Regions from separate parts of the Homo sapiens genome. Here regions 2, 3 and 4 are each linked to region 1. The links come from fine-mapping of genetic effects on gene expression. A gene starts in region 1. Each other region holds a variant in brackets. All regions are shown on one strand. Distances are between the middles of the regions.

What was found.
Region 2: its variant is fine-mapped to the expression of UNC5B in tibial artery (GTEx, PIP above 0.99).
Region 3: its variant is fine-mapped to the expression of UNC5B in whole blood (INTERVAL, PIP above 0.99). The same link has a PIP of 0.9 or more in T cells, blood mononuclear cells and monocytes.
Region 4: its variant is fine-mapped to the expression of UNC5B in whole blood (INTERVAL, PIP 0.95).

The regions. Positions count from the first base shown.
Region 1 is chr10:71,209,764-71,214,911 of GRCh38, forward strand. It overlaps UNC5B (unc-5 netrin receptor B), which reads left to right and starts at 2,807. Exons shown (of 17, transcript NM_170744.5): 1 at 2,807-3,301. The coding sequence starts at 3,223. RefSeq lists an enhancer at 2,569-2,863 and a silencer at 2,708-2,967.
Region 2 is chr10:71,247,211-71,252,338 of GRCh38, forward strand. The region is part of intron 1 of UNC5B (unc-5 netrin receptor B); the gene reads left to right. LOC112268061 (a long non-coding RNA gene) reads left to right here. Exons shown (of 2, transcript XR_002957083.2): 2 at 877-5,128. Among named protein-coding and RNA genes, the nearest start is that of UNC5B-AS1, 32 kb to the left of the region's middle. RefSeq lists an enhancer at 1-382. The variant C/G (reference allele first, on the strand shown) is at 2,037.
Region 3 is chr10:71,232,574-71,237,721 of GRCh38, forward strand. All of the region lies in intron 1 of UNC5B (unc-5 netrin receptor B), which reads left to right. It overlaps LOC112268061 (a long non-coding RNA gene), which reads left to right. Exons shown (of 2, transcript XR_002957083.2): 1 at 1-5,148. Among named protein-coding and RNA genes, the nearest start is that of UNC5B-AS1, 17 kb to the left of the region's middle. RefSeq lists enhancers at 1-433, 479-1,232, 2,741-3,492, 3,501-4,248, 4,249-4,995. The variant T/C (reference allele first, on the strand shown) is at 2,883.
Region 4 is chr10:71,180,721-71,185,868 of GRCh38, forward strand. No RefSeq gene overlaps it. Among named protein-coding and RNA genes, the nearest start is that of UNC5B, 29 kb to the right of the region's middle. The variant G/A (reference allele first, on the strand shown) is at 2,100.

The DNA.
Region 1 (5,148 bases):
CTTTCCCCCCAGCCTTATTGATGTACCCACTCAACCAAGGTTGATTGCATCCCTGCTATGCCAGAAACTGTCTTCAGTGCTAGATATATCATGGGGAACAGGGAACACAGGGCACCTGACTTCAAGCAACTCACTGCTTCGTCCTCATGCTTAACTCCCAGCAGGATGCCTTTGCTGTGAGGCCCATGGCACTCGGTTTGGGAACACCCTGGCAAATCTTAATCCTGCTATCCTAATGTGTCATCCCCCAGGCAGGGACCCTGCCCATTCTTCACCCATCCCGGGGAAAGGTATGGCTCAGGGGGAGTCTGACTCCCTCTGAAGCCCCTTGCCTGGCCTCAACTGACAGCCTGCACTCTTGAGATGCCAGGGCTGGAGAGGAACCACATCTGCAACTGCTCAGCTGCAGGTGGCTAGAGAAGGCTCAGAGACTTGGTACAGGAGCAGGGGCACAGAGCAGTTACAGAGAGATTCCCAACATGCAAAATCCCATGCCCTGATGCTGGAGTCCTGGAGGGAGAGCAGGGCCCGGGACCTCCCAAGAGTATATTTCAAGAGTTGAGAGAGTGGTTAGGCTGAGAAGGGAAGTGGGGCAGGGACTGGCAGGAGAGGGGGTAATGTCTTCCTTTTGCTTGCCCCCATCTCCAGTCCCCCTTCTCTCCACCCAGGAATTAAAGCCGTGAAACCTGATACTTGGACTAGAAGGGCCTGCTGGGTACACTTTACCACCTAAACAGCAAAGTTCCAAGGGGTGGAACTTTTTAGAAAAATCTCCAATACCCCACTGGCCTGAAGGAGAGAGAGAAAGAGGTTGGGGAGAGAGAGAGAACATGCTGTGGTCTCTGCATGCTGCCCGTCTCTGCTGAGGTCCCTGCTGAGCTCTCCAGCACAGGCACAACCTTGACCATGTGCCTGCATCCAGGGGATGACCGTCAGATGTGGGTCTTGGCACAGGCGTGCCTGTATGTGTTTCCTGGCAGTAGTTAAGTATCCAAATATCTATTTGTCTTGGGAGTCATCTGCCTATTTGTGTTTTTAGTTGTGTGCGCCTGTGTGTTTGCTTTTTTTAGGCATACATCTTTGGTATGTGGGTGTCTCTGGAGTCGGGTGCCTATTTGTAGGTGTGATGTTTATGGGAGGTGAAACATTGCACCTGTTGTCTTTGTTGTATGTTTTCGTGTGTGTACCTTTGCAGGTGTGTATGGGTGGGTAGTTGTGTGTGTGCATGTGTATTTGCAAGGTGGAGTTGGTTTGGGTGTGCTGAGCTGTTGACTGTCTCATCCACTGCCCTTGCTAGGGCTGTCAGAGGCCAAGCTAAGCAACCTACCTTTGCCCACAGCAGCCTTTCTCAATTGATGGAAGTTCTTCCCCCAGGGAGTCCCAGTCCACCTGTTGCCACCCTCCTGATGCTGGGTGCCCAGTCAGAGAGGGTTAGGGAGATGTGCTGATGGCATGCACGACCTCCCCTAGATACTCCAAGACCCCGGCTTGTGAGGGGAGTGTGTGTGGAGAGGGTACTAGTCCTGCCTTCACCTCACCTCTGGGGAAACAGCTAGGACAGTCCCCTTCGCACAGCCCAATCCAGCCCCAGGGAAGGTGTTCAAGTGAGGCTCCCCCGTTTAGAGGGTTTCTTTCCAATCCCATCTCCCCCATCCCCTTTGCTCAGTCACTCAGTCACTCCAAGCAGTGTGATCTCCGGCAGGTGGCTTTACACCTCTGTGCCTCAGGTCCTTCATCTGTAAAATGGGATGTAAATGGTGCTTACTTCAGAGGGTTGTGAGAATTAACTGACATGATGCATACAGAGTGCTTAGCCCTGTGCCTGGCACAGGGAAGGTCTTTGCCTATGTTAGCTGATCCGCTCGTTCTGATCTCTCTGGGTTTCAATCCCAAGACACTGCCCATCCTTCAAACCTCACCTGTCCCCACGTGCTCCTTGGACCACCTTTGGGTGGTCAGGACTTTCCCCCTGGAATCAGACTGGCTGGGAGGGGAGAATCTTGGAAAGAGATTATTGACACTTGCACTGCAATTTCCACACAAGTTTTAAAATTTAATTCTATACCCCCTTATGAAATAGTTATCCTTTTCCTCCATTTTACAGATGATGATGAAGGGAGCAATAGAATTGTTAAGTAACTTGTTCAAGGTCACACAGTAAATAAGGGGCAGAGTCCAAGTTTACACTGAGCCAAAAATGGCTGTCCCACTGTCAGGTAGGAGGCTAGTTTACAACAACGCAGGATCAGAGTGCTGGAGGGGTTTCCAGGGGTCTGGTTAACAGTTCTGCCGGAGATCATACAGACAAGCAGAGCCAGCCAGGATGATCCTAATCTATACCCAGCTTCATATCGCTGTAAGCCCCCGCGTAACCAGGACTTGGGTGTTCTCATTTTGGGAGCCTTTTTTTTGGAAAGACCCCCACATGTGGAAGGCAGAGCGCATACTACAGACAGGGGAGCCAAAAGTGAGAGTCCTATGTTTAATCAGAGGAGAAAGCTGACATGGCCAAGCCAAATGAAGGCGCAAAGCCAGATTTCCTTAATTTGGGGGAGCGAAAATTGGGCCGCCTCCACGTCCAGCCATTCTCCAGCGGCCGGGTTTTTCAAAACGCTGCGCCCAGCGTCTCGCGAGGACCCTCCCCCCGGGTCCCCCAGCTCTGCCGCGGCCGCGCCCAGATGGCCGTCGGATCCCCCCTCAAGGTCCCCCTGTCGGCTCCGCCCTCGGTCGCCCAGGCCCCGCCCCGGCCGCGCGCGGTCCCCTCGGTTGGCGAACTCACTCCGGCGAGCGAGCGGCGGCGCTCGGCATTGTGGCAGGCGGCTGGGGCCGGCTAGGGCGCCGGAGCCGCACGCAGCCGCGGGGCTCCGAGAGGCGCGCACTGGGGCTGGGACTGCGCGGCGCCGCCGCTGCGAGCGCCACTGAGCGGTCGCGCAACTTCGGAGGCACAGCGCCGGAGCCAGGCGAGCGCTCAGAGACCCGGAGCCAGAGGGGCGCGCCGGAGCCTCGTTCGAGAGCCGGCGCCAGGCACCCACCGCGCTCCGAGTGCCAGGCGGCCCTCCGCGCAGCGTGGCTTCCGCTGCCCCCACGGAAGGCACGGGCTGGCGCTGCCGGGCGCCGGGGAGGACGGCGAGGAGGAGGCGGCGGCGGCGGAGACGGCGGCGGCGAGACTGGGGCCAGGGAGACAGCCCTGGGGGAGAGGCGCCCGAACCAGGCCGCGGGAGCATGGGGGCCCGGAGCGGAGCTCGGGGCGCGCTGCTGCTGGCACTGCTGCTCTGCTGGGACCCGAGGCTGAGCCAAGCAGGTAGGAAGCGATCGGGTCTGGGGGCGCGGGGCTAGGGGACCCTTGCGCCTCACTCTGTCCTGAAGTTGAGGTGGTCTTTCGTCGCATCGATGCGCGCAGGAAAAGCGGCAAGGGCGCCCAAGTTAGAATGTAGATTTTACTGCCTCCCAAAGTGGGCAATGGCGCATCCACATCGCGGGAGCGGGGAGCAGGGAAGGGGCTTCACAGTAAGCTGAAAGGTCCCTGCTCGCTCCTGAAAGGGATCCCTTCTTCTCCCTGGAAGGGGTGTAGGAGTCAGGGTCTGAGTCTCCGGGAGGATCCGCCTCCTGGGGACGCCCGGCTCTCCGCGCGCCTGGCATCCGCCCCGAAAAAGAACATTGGCTACATAAGCAAGGTGTGCGCTCGCTGCCGTACGCCGGTAACTTACTAGTCTGGTCCCGGCTCGCCTAGGCTCTTACGCGCTATAGGGACAGCAATCTGCAGACTAGAGGGAGAGAGCGAAAAGACCTGCTGAACACAGGAAGCGCTTCGGTAGCCTCGGCAGGCCGGCTTGCAGGGCTCCTGAAGCGGGGAGGGCTAAGTCTTGCACACATAGCTTTCCCCGAGATCGCTGGGCCCGCAGGTCTGGAAGAATTATTATTATTATTATTATTATTATTATTATTAATTTTCTGAGTGTTGGAGAGTGTGTGTGTGTGTGTGTGTGTGTGTGTGTGTGTTGGATGCGGGTAGGGGTTCTTAGCGATCCTGCGGAGTTTCCTTTTAAATTGGTCACTGACATTCTCGCTGTCCGGGGAACAGACTAGGTGCGCTCTCCTTGGTACAGCGCCCGCTCTGGACCCACCAAGATGACTTCAGCGAACTGGTGGGCTCCGAAATAAAGTCCCTAACCCTCCTCTCTCGCCGTGGATGAATACGTTTCTCGCTCGTCCTGTAGCTGGACCCGGCGTCGCTGGCTGGGCTGCGTCTTCTCGGGGAGGCTGTGGACTGAATGGAGCCAGCCTCTCTCTGGTACCCGAACCCAAGCAAGTGGGCTGGCCACGGCTGCCGGGCGGCTCGGCTCCGGAGCCAGGTGGGGACGGGGCCTCCTGCACGGAGTCCTCTCTGAGTTGAGGCTGAGAATGGAGCAGGAAAACTGGAGCAGAAAGTGGACGAGATGACGCAGCCCTCCCCACCTCCTACCTCCTGCTGCGAAGTTGACATCCGCCCTTCCCCCCTCCATAGCCAAAGATTCCTCATTCTGGAATTAGTGATTCCCACGGCCAGGAGTGAGGGCTTGGCTTTAGCACATTCCCCACTTTTTTTTTTTTTTCTGGTGCAAGTCCTGTGCAGTAGAGTTACAACACTCAACCATTTGATCCAAGTTAATTATGATTTGGGCAGACTCTGGTATTTAAAGCAGTGTTTTGAAGTTGGAAGGTAATGATGGGGATGGGGAAGGCAGGCTGCTGAATGTCCAACCTTGTTTTAAAGGGTGCAGTTAGACGTGGGAGGTGCTTGGTTGGGGTGCTGGTTTCTGGTTGGAGGGGGTTTGAGGAGATGATTGAAGGGTAGGGTGAAGTCTCTGTAAATGGCACATGGGCAGGGTTGTGTCTTGGGAAGCTGCTTTTGTACCAGCAGGACAGTGGGATCAGGAATAAATACTTAGGTTACCAGGAATGAGGGGCTGCTGTAGGAGAAAGACAAGACTGGTTGGCCTATAGTTCTCTGGGTGGGTGGGCTTGGCCAAGAAGGCTGGGGGTGGCCTGCATTTCCTGCTTAACAAAGCATCCAGCCCCCACCTTCCCCAGAAGAAACCCCAGGCCCAGGGCTTTGATGGATTTGGGCACGAATGGTGCCCAGTCAGAAATGGCCTCTAATACCCGGCT
Region 2 (5,128 bases), 37 kb after region 1:
AGGCCTATCCCTGCCCTGAAGGTGCCTATGGAGTCAGAACAGAGAGGTCACTCAGAGGTGACAGCATCTTGGGCTGCAGAGTGAACATCCAGAACATCAGGGAAGGCTCCCTGGAGCAGGTGCCATTGGCACTGGGTGTACAGAGAGGGCCATGGCTGTAGGGAAGGCACTGTTCCATCTACCCAGCCTTGCAGCAGTCCCCTCCACCCCTGCCCCTACCTGGCTAACATGCGGAGAGGAGAGGTGATTCAGCAGGCCTGGCTTGTTTCTTTCTTGCCCACTGAGGCCTCGCTGTTGGACAGGCTCCCAGACGTTGCAGTCAGCTGGAGGCCTCACCTTCTGAGCTCCCAGACCTGACCCTCTGCACTTTAACCTGGCACCCTGGCCCCAGCTGAGTTGGACTGTTTCAGGAGTCTGAGTCTGGGCCTTCCTCAGCTGTACACCCCCAGTCCCCAGGCCCCAGCATGGATGTGAGCGAGCCACAGCACCCACACTGGGACCTTTGCATGGTTGGGAGTTCTGTGCCATAGAACAAAGAGAAACCAGGCAGTGAGTTCTATAGAAATCAGACCGGGGGCTAAGGGAAGACATGCTTCCTTTTTTGCTTTGCCCTGGGATGTAGGACCCAAGTGAAGTAAGGCTCCCTAGTGATTTGGGGGTCTTACTTGTGTCCTTGAGACCTGGAAAACCCTCTCAAGGCCTCAGGGAAAAGGAGAAAGGATGGGAATGCCGCATCTGCCTTTGGCAAGCTGCTGATTCACCTCCTCCTATGTGGCCTTTACTTTCCTACTCTGTATAATGGGTAGGAGTGGACTCAATTGCCCCCTTCTCTCTCCCCTTTGCCAAAGCCTCTGACTTCTAGCACTGCCTTTCCAGGCTTGTGGTATCTCAGGGAAGGAGATACTGGTTTCACCCTGGGAACCATCCAAGCACCCAGGTCCCTGGTACCAGCTCTCAGCTCTTTGATAGCAGTCTTGGGGCCTCCCTGGGTCCTGTCTCTGAGGAGCAGAAGAGGAGTTGAGCTCCCCCCACTTGCTTCCACCTCTCAGGTAGGCAGCCTTGCCTCTGGCCTTGGCAGCACTTTCCCAAGCAGGGACGCCCTGGGAGCCTATACGGCCAGGAGGGAGGCAATACACACAGCGCCCTGGAGAAAAGCCCCCCGCACCTCCAGAGCAGAATGAGCTAGCGGGAGGCAGGGAGAAGGGGGGCCCACTTTCCCCTTCTTCCCCTGAGTTGGCACTTTTCTCTTTGAGTGTTAAACTCAGCTCTTCCTTTTTCTCCTATTCCTGACAGCCTGTTGAATAATTTAAATATTTGGGCCTAAAGGGCTTCAATTATCCTTTAATTTACATTAGTAATTTATGTATTAGGCAGAATGGACACACGGTTAGTGTAACAACCCCCAGTAGACCGGCTAATATCTGCTGCACTCACCGTTCTTAAGAATCTCATCATTTTTCTTTGCAGCCCAAGGTCTTTGTTTTCAAAGTGGCTCCTAGGCATGCACTTTTACACAGACCTGTGTACATGCTCAGGGGTACACAGCAGAGGATGCCTGAACTCATAGAGAACATTGACATGCACCCACTTACAGGCAGGCACACTGAAGCAGTGGGTACAGGCTCCTCCCTCTCTCTGTCTCTCTCTCTCTCTCTCTCACACACACACACACACACACACACACACACTCATAGATGTAAAACACACACCATGTCAGACCAGCCATCTCCACTCCCACCTGCACCCCACTCCTTCCTGTGGGCAGTATGTACACATATGCTTGTATTTGCATCTGTTGGCCAGGTGATCCCAAACATAGCTCCCTCTGGCAAAGAGGCTACTGGGCCCCAGCATGACATTCAGATGTCCCATTCTGTGTCCAAGCTTTCAGTCCCTTTTTGCACAGCCCTACACAGGCACCTCACCCCAGGGTTGAACGCACTCATGAGAACGTGACCACGGCCACAGCTCCAGTGTGCTCACATGCTGTGGGCTGGCACCAGCTACAAAGTCCTCCTGGGCTTCTCAGGCATGCT[C/G]CCCTCCAGAGCCTGCAGCCTGGGCACCAGTAACCTGGCATGGCCTAAGCTATTGCCCTGACATAGCTAGGCTGCCAAAGGGACCCCATTTGGGATTGCCAATTCCTGGCTGCCCCTCAAAACTTGGCCCAGCTGCCCCAGCACCAGCTTGCAAGGATTGAGGGCTCCCCAGGGGGTGGGGACAAAAGTGACAGAGAGTGATAACCCTATGTGTGAGTGTATATTCCAAGCTTGTTAAGCTGGGTTGGGCCCCTGGTTCTGTGGAACGCACCTTGCACCTCTGTGCCGAGACCATGCTATACAGGTGAGGCCCTTGGGATCCAGAGCCATCTCTGAGAATGTGGCTTTCCAGCTGTCATTTCTAACTCCAGGAGAGTCCCCTGGCATGGTCCCTGGCTCCTCCTACCACCCTCATCTCTCTCCCACAGCCACAAAGCACAGAGCAGGTAGAAGGCAGGTAATGCAGTGGGCAGTGCAGATATCTGATTGGTGGGGTAGTCCATTATACAGAAGGAAAAACCAAGGCTGCAGGAGGTTAGGGCATGGAACAGATAGGTTACTTAGAGAATCTTCTGGAAAGGTCCCTCTTAGGGGCACTGGCCACGTATCCCAGTGCCATGAGGGCTTTTGGAGCCCAGATTTCCCTCTTCCCACTCCAGTGCTCAGGCTGTGGTTCTGGTTGGGATGGGGTGGGGACGTGGTTCCTCTCCCCAAGCATATGTTTAGGCTCAGGAGAACAGCCCAGAGGAGCTAAGTGGAAAGTGTGTGGCCACAGGTGCCCATCTCTGTGCCTCTTCAGGAGACTGCCATGACACCAGGCATCTCACCACTCTTGAGCAGGGCAGAGGTGCTGGGAGCCCATGGCAAACCCCGCTGGGCCTGAGCCACCTGCCTGCTGAAGGCCTCTTACCAGGTGGTGCCCCAGGCCCTGCTCCCCAGGATGCCTTGAATGAAGGGGCAGTGCCGGTGGGGGAGACATCAGAACTCCTTTCCCCCCGGCCCTAGGGATGACCCCGAGCCTCCGGCCGTTCTGCTGGGTCCAAATGGGATACTTCCTACCGGGTTGCATGAGCTAGGCCCCTTCTGGAAGTCCCCATCATTGCCCCTCTCCCAGCCTTGGCCTCTCTTCTTCATCTGTCTGGCCTGGCTTGGGTGTGTGGATGCTTCCTCAAGTCCCAGCTTAATTCCTGACTTTCCGAGGAATCTTTTCCTGATAGCTCCAACCTCCCCAGACCTGTATAGCCTGTACCTCAAAATCTAGGGCAGCAGTGGCAAACGGTTTATCTCAGGTGGCTGTTTTGAAAGTTTGAGGGTGACTTCCCAGGGTGTAGTGTTGAGAAATCTAGGGCCACATCTGGACTCATTTACAGAAGTCAGCATTAATTAGTGATGTCTGCTGTGGTGTGGGATGGGGAGGTGGTGGCTCTCAGGCTGGGCACATGCCAAAACAGATCCAGGGCTAAATTCTAAAGTATTGTTGCTGCGCTGCAGTGGTTTCCTGAAGGGTTATCCCCCTCCTAGCTCCCAGCACTTTGGGGTAGAGATTATAACTTTTCTAATTTATAATCTATGGGAGTATACTTCTGTCTCCTACAGATTCTAATATAGATCTAGATACATAGTAGACACTGAAGAGGGGAATACTTACAGCATGCTAGAGGTGGAAGGAATTCTAGAGATCACTGAGTTCAGGGATGGCAAGTAGGTCTCCTCTTGCTACCAATCCTGAACAAACAGTGATGACTTTCAGGAGATGTGCTGATTCAGAGACTCAGATCTGGCTCAGTTGGGTCAATTAGTGATGTCTGTCATGGGCTCAGCCATGGTAGTAGTTGTACCAAGGTATTGCTATCCCTGTTTTATTTCAGTCTTCCAAATATATTGATATGGAAACTAGGACTCAGAGTGGGTAATCTGTCAGAGGTTACCCCGCTGCTTGCTTGGATGGTTAGAGAATCCTCACTCCTTCCAAAGGAGTTTCCCTGTCAGAGGTCAGGGTAAGGAAGGTAGAATCTTCAAAGCCTGGATAGACAAACTGATGATGTGTCTTTCTGAGACTGGTTCCTACAGCTGTAGTCTTTGTATGTCTTCATGCGGTTTTTAAACTTTTAAACTTTCACCTTTTGATATAGTAGGTGGTAGGTACAATAGAAACGCTGTACATGGCATTTAAAGGCAAATTGGATTTTCTTCTGGCAGCCACCCTGGACTTCAGACTTGCAGGCCCCAGAGCACAGTTTATCTCCCCATCTGCAAGAGCGATTTTCCATTTGCTCCACAATGGGAAATAAGAATCCATCATGTGCCATTGTGTCAGGAAGGTGGTGTCTACTTTAATAAATTTGCTTTTAAATGCTGGCTGTCTCTGGAGATCGTTTCGCTCATGCCTGCAGACAAAGTGATTAAAGTTGCAGAGTATACATGGTTCCTGCAAAGACCCAGAAGGGGTCTTCTCGGTCCATATCTGAAACCCTTGCCACATAGGGGAATGAATGAACCAAGATAATTCCTCTCCTGTGAGAGTCTCAGTGCCACAGGCTGAAGCACACACAGGGAAGAATTGAGGATATTTATTTTTCTTTAAGTTGTTTTCCCCCAGGAAAAAAACCCACAGGCTGGAGATGTATACCTCAAGTCATTGATTTTATTTCCTCTCAAATTGACCTTGCTTTTCTAGGACTTTGCCTCTTTAAGTGTACCAGGTGTGACATCTTTGTAAGTAAATGAAGTGCTGTGTAATGTTCCCCTTCACCTCCTCCAACAAAAAAGTGATTTGAAATCTGGGTTAAAAATAAGTGTCACATATATATATTACAATATTTTCCCAAATGCCTGTGCTTTAAAAATGGGTGAAGGGACAGTTAACATGCTCTTCAGTGGTATCTGAATCTTGAATTTTATTTTTCCAGGTCTAGTCCCTATATAGTTGATCATTCACAGTGACTCTAGGCTGATCTCTTGCCCTCTCTGGGCCTGTTTTGCCATCTATCAAATGGGCTAACTTTGGGCCTGAGCAGCAGGAAGCGTGATAGAGCACCAGGCTGTGAGGGTGGCTCCCTTTTGTGTCTCTGCATTGAGCAGGATAGAGTTTG
Region 3 (5,148 bases), 23 kb after region 1:
AATGGGCATGTGATGTCACCGTGAGCTCCGCCAGTTGGCAGCCCTGGCCTTGCTTTGGGTCATTTACATGTCTTCAGTTGGTTAAGAAGGAGCTCTTACTGCCGATTTATTAGTTGCCGCCTGCCTAGCCTTGGTAGCTGTGATAAGGAAGGGGTTTAGGGGCCATGGATGGATGCCAGTCCCCCATGGCCATGCTGCCTCACTTCCCAGCACAGCCTGCCATGCAGCATGTCAGTGAATAAACCAATTCCAGTAGGATGGGGCTTGACAGTTTCCAGGGTGTTCTCATGCAGTCCTCCCAACCACTCTGTGAGATGGGCATGATTACCTTGCTCGTGGAGAGGAAGAAACCAAAGCTCAGGGAGCTTGAGTGCCTTGTACACAAAGCTGCGACCTTACTCCAGGATTTCTGCCAGCTGTGTCTGCACCTGATGGGGGACTTGTGGGCAGGTCGCTGTCCCTCTGAATGTGGTCTGCAGTATTTCTACTTCCACAGCACTTGTCCATTCTGATGGCCTAAATGCCAAGAGAACAGGGATCAAGGACCAGTGTGCCCTGTGACCTTGAGCAAGGTTGTTTCTGCCTCAGACCTCAATTTTCCCAAAGGTAAAGCAAGAGTTGGACTGGGTGGTCTTCCAGGAAGGTAGGACCCCTCGGCTTTTCGTTGCAGGTTTTCAAGTGTGTCCTAGCACCGAGGAGATGAGGATCCTGAGGTGGCCCCATCCCGGGGTCCTGAGGTGGCCCCATCACGGGGTCCACAGTACAAGGTCAATGCACTTGTAATAAATATTGAGCCAACCAATGCTGAGCCGCATCCCTAGCCTCTGAATAAATAAAATGTTGCCCAGAATAACAGCCCGGAAGATGCTGGCGGCTTCAGCCAGCTCTCACCTTTGCCTCTCCCACTGGCCAAGCCTGTCACCCGTCCCTATACTCCCTTGTCTCCCCCTTCCCTCTGCCTCCCCACTCCACGGTCCATCACTCTAGCTCCAGAGGTGGCCACCGTCCCAGCCTGGCTTTAGTTTCTAGCTCTGCAGCCTGCATCTCCCTCTCCCAGCCCCTCAGCTGCCACAGCAGTTAATGAGGACCAACCCCTACAGATGGCAGCTGGGAGACAGGCCAGCCAGGTTCTGGTGGGGCTGGGGTGGGGCACAGGGAACTGGAGGTGGGGCACAGGGGAGTGTGCCTTTAATCCCCAGCACCAGACAGAAGCCTTTCCTTCTTTGTCAGGACCCTTGCTGGCATTTCCTCCTGCAGCCCATCCCTGGGAGATGAACTGGTCCAACTCCTGCAGGAGGCCAGCCCACTCTAACTGCTCTTGGCTGAGGCCGCCAGGAGATTAGAAACAGGGTCCACAAAGGAACCTGGTCCCAGGGTGCTCCAGGCCACACAGGCACACTTGATTTGATGCTTCTCTGCCTGATGAGTGTGCAAGTACAGTTATATGTGTTATATGGCTCCCTTCTTTTTACGGTTCAAGTTTCTCAGGGGCAGAGCCGGTTAGGTCAAGTGTGAAGTTACAAAATGTTAGCACTGAAGAGATATCTTCCTCATTTTATAGATGAGGAAATTAACCTCGGGGGTGGGGGGCGGAGATAAGGACACTTGCCCAGGGTCACACAGCCAGGAAGCAGCAAAAGAGCCTGGATTTGGAGCCTGATTAGGGCCTGTGCCCTTGGCCCGCACTTGACACCGCCCCCTCCAGGGGCTTTTGCTGGGGCCCTCACGGAGATGAGGCTTCATTCTTGAGATTCAGGCCTGGCCCAGAGAAGTCCAAGCCAGGGAATCGAAGCTTCTTGGTCCCAAGGTTTATGGACTGCCCTGGGGAAACAGTACCCCATCGGAAAACCTGCTCTCTGCTCTATGAAAAGGACCTTCACCATGTTGTGGGGTTTCACTGAAAAGTATTCTGGGGACCAGCATAAGAAGCAAAGCCCCTTGTATGACCTTCCTTTGGTCTGTCAAGCTGTGTGAGAACCAGCAGGGAGCCCCTGGGGTGGGAAGCTCAAAGCCCCAGGCAGAACACACCTTCCCTTTGCAAGGCACTTTCTAGATGGAATCCCTGGGGAGAAGCCTAATAGCTCAGTGCAAGAGGCGTGTGGGGTTTCATCCCCATTCTACAGGTGAGAGCACCTAGATGCAGCTAGAATACTTGGCCAGAGTCTTGTGGCTAAGACAGTTCCCCAGCCAGTTCCAGGCTGCTGGGTCTGGGGGCCCTGCTGCCTTGTTAGGAACTTGGGAGACTTGGAAACCTGGGCCTCTCTTCCTCTGCTCTATTTGCAGAGGTCCCAGGGTCATTCTGAACACATCAGGGAGACTCATCCTAAAAGCTGGGTTGAGGGGACAGGATTTGGCATCCAGATCCCCTCCCCAGCAGGCCAGATAGATTCCCACTGGTCTCCTGGCCCAGAAGGAGAGGCCAGCCCTTCCCACCCCCAGCGCCCAGGGGGGCCCCTCCTCCCCCGGCCTGGCTGCAATGCCGGGCCCCTATTGCAGGACTCGCTGCCGCTGCCTCTGACTCTGCCTCTGCCTCTGCCTCTGCCTCTGACAGACATCCCGCCCCAGAAGATAAGGATCCTGTCTGGCGCCGGAGTGCTTTTTTTCCTCCTTCTTTCCAAATCTGTTCCCTGATTATCTGCAGACAGCCCCTCGCTAGGGGAGCCACCAGGGAAGGGGCCCAGACCACAGAGAAAGACAGGAGGGGTGGGACTAACAGGCCTGCAGCCACCAGCCCTTCTGAACCCCTCTGGGGGCTTGATGGTCATTTGCTGAGCCCCCACTGTAGCCAGAGCCCTGAACTCAGCAGAGAGCTGAGGACTGGTTTCCCTGGGTGGGACTGACCCACTTCAGCGGGAAGAAGAGGGTATGTGGACTGGAGGTTG[T/C]GCCAGCGTGGGCTGGGATGGGGACAGAGGGTGGGGTTCCTTCCGTGGTCAGCGTTCCTCAGCCTTGGGCCTGGAGAGCACCCAGAGGGGATGTGGTAGAGGCTTCAGCCAGCCAGACGGCCACATCCTGTGGGAGACATTGGCCCTTCCCAGGCCAGACGGTGGGAGGACACTTAGGGACTGGTAGGGGGGTCCTAGGGGGTTCCCGGAGCCCAGCCTCCAGCCCTGAGGACTGAGCTTAGAGAATGGCCAGGGCTGGTGTGGCCTCTTGGCCTCAACCTGAAAAGGAAGGGCAGCTCCCCACCAACTGGGCTTCAGACCAGGCACCATTGTGGAATTCCAGCCTTAGAGTGCCCAAGCCGCTGAGAGCCCTAGAGAGCACCTGGTCGCATCTGGGCCATCTATAGACAGAGGGACCCATGTGGAAGGCAAAGGGATCATCCCCACCTCGCCCACTGGCATGTCAGGAGCCTGCAGCATGGGTCCTACTGCCCTGGGAGCTGGGAGCCCTAGTTCAGGTCCACACTCTGCCACTAATACGCTGTGTGACGTTAGGCAAGTTCCTTTCCATCTCTGGGTCTCACTCGTCAACTGTAAACTGAAGGGGCCTTCTGGTCGGGGCAGGAGGGAACAGTGGAGATCTGAGTCCAAAGACCTTTCCAAACTTTGTCAAACTCCTCAGGGTTGTTGTAAGATTCAATGAGATATTGAAGGTGACACCTTGGCTTACAGTAGGTGCCCCATAAGTATGAGTATGTCCAGCCCTTGACAGCTCAGACTAGGGACCTCAGGACTGGGCAAAGCCTGGGCAGTTGAGTTCCCCTCTGTGAGAATGTGCTTGTGTAGCCTTAGAGAAAGACCCTACACCTTCCCTGCCCCCAGCATCCCTTGCCATGCCCGCCCTGCCTCACCTAAAACATGTGGGGGAAGGGAAGCAATGCAAGATCATTTTTTATGGCTTCCTGGCCCTGGAGCCAGAGGGCTGAGGATCGGGTGGTGTGGGCCGGATTCCTGAGCCCCCCTTCAGAGCCAGCTCGTAAATATGAAGCCGGGGCAGGGAGGAGCTGGCTGTTAAGCTGTCAGCAGAGGCCCATTTAGAAAGTCGTAAAGCGTTTCTCAGAGCTCCTCAGAGCTGGGACCCAGGGCCCTCCCGCCCCACACTGACCGGCAGTGGCCTCCTCATTCATGGGTGCTGGGCTTCCCTGCCCGAGCCCCCACTGGAGACTCCCTGGCTCTTGCCATTAGCTGTGCCTTGGTTTCCTCTCTGTGCAAAGGAAGTCTGCTCTGCTTCTCCTCTGGGAGAATGGATGGGGAGGTCCAGTGAAGCCCTCAAGAGGCCAGAGGGACCCTGGTCCTGAGAGCAGTGAACCCCCATATTTATCATTCCCTTCTCTGTGCCTCGCTCCAAGGGGACCCAGAACCTACCCCCAAGGAGCTCACAAAATTCCACTTAGGAATGAGAGAAGATGCATGCCCCTGAAGAGAACGCCCACATTTTCTCCAGCTCAGAGGAGTGAGCTCCACGGCTGGGATGTGGAAGGCTTCCTGGAGGAGGTGGAGGTGTAGATGGGGGCTCCAGGGTATTCAGAGGTTTGGAGAAGAGGCAGGAAGCACAGGTGGTGGGCAAACAGGCCTGCCTGGGCGGAGGGTAGCTAGGATCCCAGGCTGGGTGTGGAATAGCAAAGGCCACAGAGCCTGTGAGCAGAGGCCCACTCTGGGGACCAAGTGCACGTTCCCTAATGACCCCTGTTTGCCTGGTCACCAAGACTCGTGTTTATGTGGAAAAGCTCTGGCAACAGCATGGGTTCAAATACTACCCTCCCTGCTTCCAAACCACGTGTTCCTGGACAGTTTAGCCCATGTGAGCCTCGTCTTCAACCACAAAGTGGAATTAATAGCAATCTACCCCATAACGTCTCCATGAGGTTTAAATGAGATTTTAGAGAGAGAGCCGTCTCACTCAGTGCTTGGGCATTTTTGGAGTTGGTTAGCCTGGGTCTGAAACTCGGCTCTGCCTCTTACTGACCATGTGCCCTTGGGGTCACCTCTTAAGACCTCAGTTCTCTCATCTGTAAAGTGGGGGTAAGAGCAGTGAGACGTCAATAAGTAAATACACGGGAAGTCCTCAGCACAAAGCTGGCAATCCTGAGTGCATTAACTATTATTATGCAAGGTGTTCCTGCAGCACCTAGTGTGAAGGAGGTGCGGTGAAGTCCGTATTGGAAGCCTCCTGCCTCCATCTCCAGCCTGTGGCCTCTATAGGATC
Region 4 (5,148 bases), 29 kb before region 1:
CTTCTAGATCAGGTGTTTCAAACCTTTGGCATGCATCAGAATACCCTGGAGGGCTTGTTAAACCAAGACTGCTGGGCCTCATCCCCAGAGTTTCTGAATCAGTAAGTATGGGCTAGACCTGGAGAATTTTCATTTCAAACATGCTCCCAGGTGGTTCCACTATTGCTAGTTTGCAGCCCACACATTGAGAACCACTGTTCTGGAGCCTCTGGAGGTGGAAAGGGCCAGTGCCGCCCCTTTAATGAAGGCATGGGCGGAGCTGGGCTCATGGGAATAGCTTTAGTACTTTAGGGTTGATTCCTTGGGATTGGCTAAGGAGAGTGGCCCGCATTGATTTTGAAGGGCTTTGGGGTCCCCTAGGACCTCAGCAAAACTCAGGGAGTCCTACTGTCTCTTGGGAATGGGAAGGCAGTGCTGGTTGTCTGATTCCTGGATTAGGGTCCAGGCAGGTGGGAGAAGGAAGGCAGAAGAGGTTGCGGGAGTGTGGAGCACATCCTGGAAATCCAGGAGCTGGGGTCTAGGCCCAGCTCTGCCACCAACACCTTTGGGGACACTGTCAGTTACTTGCCGTCCTTGAATCTTGTCTTGCCTCAGACAGAGTGCTGAGACTGGACCATATTTTTGATGAGTTCGGGCAACATTTATTATTGAGTGCTATTTGAGTGTCAAGCACTGTGCTTGGTGCTAAAAGGTAGAGGTAAAAGATGGAGCCCTTTGCTCTGGAAGAGTTTGCAGCCTGGTGGGGGCGTGACAGGGAAGCAGTGATCAGGATCCATGCAGGGTGGGGAGTGCACTGGTGAGAGCCCTGGGGAGGCTCTCCTGTGGTCCCCTGGGGTTCTTTCCAGCCCCAGACCTGGTGTGGGGCAAGGGGTCTCCCCAGCTCTGGAAAACACCCACACCAGCTTTCACAGGGACAGAGGGATATATATTTTTTTGACTTTTAAAAAACATGTTCATGGGTACATAGCAGGTATATATATGTATGTGGCCTATGAGATATTTCGATATGGGGTAATATTTAAATGAGATGCAAAATCAAGCTTTTAAAACTCTCTACTACCCCGGGGAGGCTCAATCTAAGGTAGACTGTGAGCCTGTGGGAGGTGGGTCTGTTTTCATCATTTATCTGTTTATCGGCTACCAAGTGTCACAGGTCAAGATGCTGATGCCCAGGCTCCAGCCCAAGGCAATAGAAGCAGAATCAAGGGGTTCTCTGTGCAGAACCCTTGGTTGGCTGGAGAACCATTGATCTAGATTGGGAGGAAAAAGTCTTCCAAAAGCCCGGAAGAGGCAGTGCAACTCCGGCAGGGGTCCAAGGAAGGTAAAGCACCCCACGCGACTGCTGGAGACGGGCGAGGAGTGAGAGGCAGGTGGGAAGGTGGCTTCAGCCAGTTTCCCCAAGGACCTTCCTTACAAAACTGAGGTGCTAGGCTGTTTTTCATGGTTAACAGGGAGCCATTGAAGGCCCCCAAGGAAGGATATGATATGTTCAAAGCTGAGTACCAGCCATGGCAGCCTCTGCTTCCTCCTGCCTCTTCCCTTACTCCTAGATTCTACTTCCACCATGTGACAAAAAGAAAAGCGCTTGGGCCTTGCAGCCCGTTCTGTTAGAAAATGCAGGTTTGGGGTGTATATTGGTGGACCAGCAAGAAAGGAAGGGGGCCCCAGAGTCCTGCCCCTTCAAAACCATTGACAATTTCTGTGTGGCCTTGGGCAAGTAGGTCAGCGTCTCTCAGCCCCGGCGGCCAAATTCCTGCCTGCCCAGGAATACACAATGTACAGAAGCACACTTTGAAAAGGTGAGAGCTGGACTCAGAAGCAAGGTCAACGTAAAAGGAAGAAGCTAAAGCACAAAATGTGATTTCAAAAAGTTTACTTGAGCCAAAGTGAGGACAGCTGCCTGGAAGACTCAGACCCAAGGAAGCTTGGTTATGAGCTCCAGTTCACCTTACAGGCAGGTTTTTAAAGGCAAAAAAATAAGAGAACAGGGAGCGGACTGATACAAAGTTATCAGGAATTCTCGTTAGTTTACAGAAATAACTTGATTAGCGACTGGCTATACATTAAGCTACAGAGTGTGGGACGTAGCGTCCAGTGAG[G/A]CATTTTTAGGTTAATTCATAGTTACCTGGGGCAACAGCAAGCAGTTTCAACAGATGAACAGGGGAAGTAGGGCATGGTTGCTGTCTCATTTTAGTGCCTCTCTGGGCCTAATAATTTGGTTTTTTTGAGACTGAGTCTCGCTCTGTGGCCCAGGCTGGAGTGCAGTGGCGCGATCTCAGCTCACTGCAACCTCTGCCTCCTGGGTTCAGGCAATTCTACTGTCTCAGCCTTCTGAGAAGCTGGGACTACAGGCGCACACCACCACGCCCAGCTAATTTTTGTATTTTTAGTAGAGACGGGGTTTCACCATATTGGTCAGGCTGGTCTCGAACACCTGACATCAAGTGATCCACCTGCTGCGTGAGCCGCTGCGCCCAGTGCTGTGCCTAATAATTTGAAAAGGCTCACATTCCTCAGGTAACTGTTGTTTTCTTTCCTTAGTATCCTTTGATAAGCCCAGCTGGACAGGCAGGGCTAAGGGACCAAGGAATCAAGTGACTGGAAGAACATTTGAAGAAGATCACTTCCTGTTAAGTCCCAAACCTGGGCAAAGCGTAAGGACAGGTAGGGTCAGCACATCTGTTTTTCATGATCCCAAGCTCAAATGTGAGAAGGAGGTAGCAGGGGTGATGTGAAATAGAAAACAGATGAAACATTGGAAAGAGCCAGATAATGATTTCAGGAGCGGCCCAGCCACAGGTGTGGAGAGGGGAGGCCAGACCCTCAGGGGCCCCTCCCAGATGAGGCCTATCTGGAAAGATGCAATTGCACACGTTTTAAGGGGAATCACCTGAGAACCGGAGTAGGGGGGTGTGGAGTAGAGGGTTATGAGGAGGAGTTTCTTCTTCTGAATTCAAGTCCCAATTTTGCTGTGTGACCTGGACACATACTGATACCTCTCTGGGCCTCATCAGTGCTAATTTACCAGTTCCCCCTAATTAGGTAAGAACTGGACCCTTGCTAGGGTCATGAAGACATTGCTCTGATCAAATTGGTGGTGCAAAGTGGTGAGATGAGCCTAAGATGGGTGATGAGAAATGAAGGAGTAATTTAAATAACAAGTGTCCTTCAAAGTGATTCCTGGCTCCCAGCCCCATCTCAGCCTCAGTCCCTGAGCCTCTGAACTGCCCCACTCCGCCCAGGTTCTCAGCCCAGGGCAGCCCATGCTGCTGGTCCCGTCCTACCCACCCACCTCTAGTTCCTGGCTTGGGACAAGTCCACCTTTTAAGCCCTAGCTTTAGGGACTGGCTTTACCTAGGTGAAATTATTGTCCCCAAGGATGGGCCCACTGGTAACTATGGAGCCAAGGAGTACAGGTAAGGCTGTCAGGCCCCAGACCCACACTCCAGCCTCCCATGCTCCACTTCCCTATGTCCACACCCTCAATTCTGCTGGGGGTCTAGAACCACAGCCTCAACTTGGCTGCTTTTCTTTTTTAAATTTAGTCACAACAACGATCTACAGTAGCATCAGATAGTGCAGGTCATGGTAATGTAGCAACTGCAATGCCCCTGTCCCCTAACCAAGATAGCAGGGAAACAGCGTGGTGATTAAGAAGTGTGTCTCCTATTTTCGTCACACACATGCTCAAGTGCTCAAGAGGAGCCAGGTGCTTCCACGATGGCCTCTGCCTGCACTCGCCCCATAGCCCAGCAAAAGAGGTGCACCTGAGGCTCTGGGCCACTGATCTGGAGTTGTAGAAGGGCAGAGCCAGGATCCCCATGCCGGGCTGTGCTTTTCCCCAGCAGTCCACAGCTTTGCCACCGGCAGGACTGAGCTCCTCTCTGGCCTCAAAGTCCCCCTAGATAATGCGTGTACTTTGTTCTGCTCAGCCTTCATCAGGGTGGTCAGGAGGAGCTCAGGAAGGGTGACCTGAGAACCTCACCAAGTTCCCTGTGGCTTATCCCAGCTCTGCAGACAGCAGCGGGAAAGTTTCACTCCACAGCTCCCTCTCCCCTGCAGCTATGGGAGCAAGTACCACTCCAGATTTGATGAAAGCCACATGCCAGGAAACCTTTAAAACCCACTTTGGTGCCAGGCACAGTGGCTCACACCTGCAGTCCGAGCACTTTGGGAGGCCAAGGACGATGGATCACCTGAGGTCAGGAGTTTGAGACCAGCCTGGCCAACATGGTGAAACCCCATCTCTACTAAAAATACAAAAATTAGCCGGGTGTGGCGGCACATGCCTGTAATCCCAGCTACTTGGGAAGCTGAGGCAGGAGAATCACTTGAACCCGGGAGGCTGAAATTGCAGTGAGCTGGGATTGTGCCACTGCATTCCAGCCTGGACGACAGAGCCAGACTCTGTCTCAAAATAATAATACCCCCTTTGGAGCAGGGGAGTGTAGTGTGGGATTGAGATGTGGAGTTTCATACACTTAAATTTGAGTTATGGCTTCCACATTCGTTGTCTATGTGACCTTGGGCAAGTTGCTTAACCTCTCTGAGCCTTAGTGAGCTGGTTTAGTTTAGTTTAGTTTTTTTTTTTTTTCACTTTTTTGTTTTCTCTCTTATGCAAGGATAATGCTACCTCACAGGGATGTTGTGAGGCTTCAACATGATAGTGAAATAACAAGCTCAACAGGTGGCAGTCCGACCACTGACATTAGTGTTGGCAGCATCAATTTGCCATAGACAAAGTCTAGCCATGGAAAGCTTGGCTTAGACCCTACCCAGATGGCCTCACTACCAAAGACCAAAGAGGCTCTGAACCCAGGTGGTCCACTGATGAGACGCTATTAAAGAGTGACCCCGTGGGCTGTGTCCTACAGACTCTAGTGAAGCCTGTGCTTGTGGCCCTGCCCTTTAGGGGCACCCCTAAGCCTTTCCTTCCACCATCCCAAACTGCCCAGCCTGTGACACCTGCTGAAAGCCAAGCCCCTAGACGTCAGCCTCTGTCTGGAACTAGGAATAATAACAATACATTCCCACACTAGCCCTAAAGCTGGGAAGAGCTCATGAGCCGTCTAGTCCAGCACTCCTATTTTACAGAGGAGGAAACAAGACACAGAAGGAAGCCACACAACTCCCACAGCTGAGGCTTCC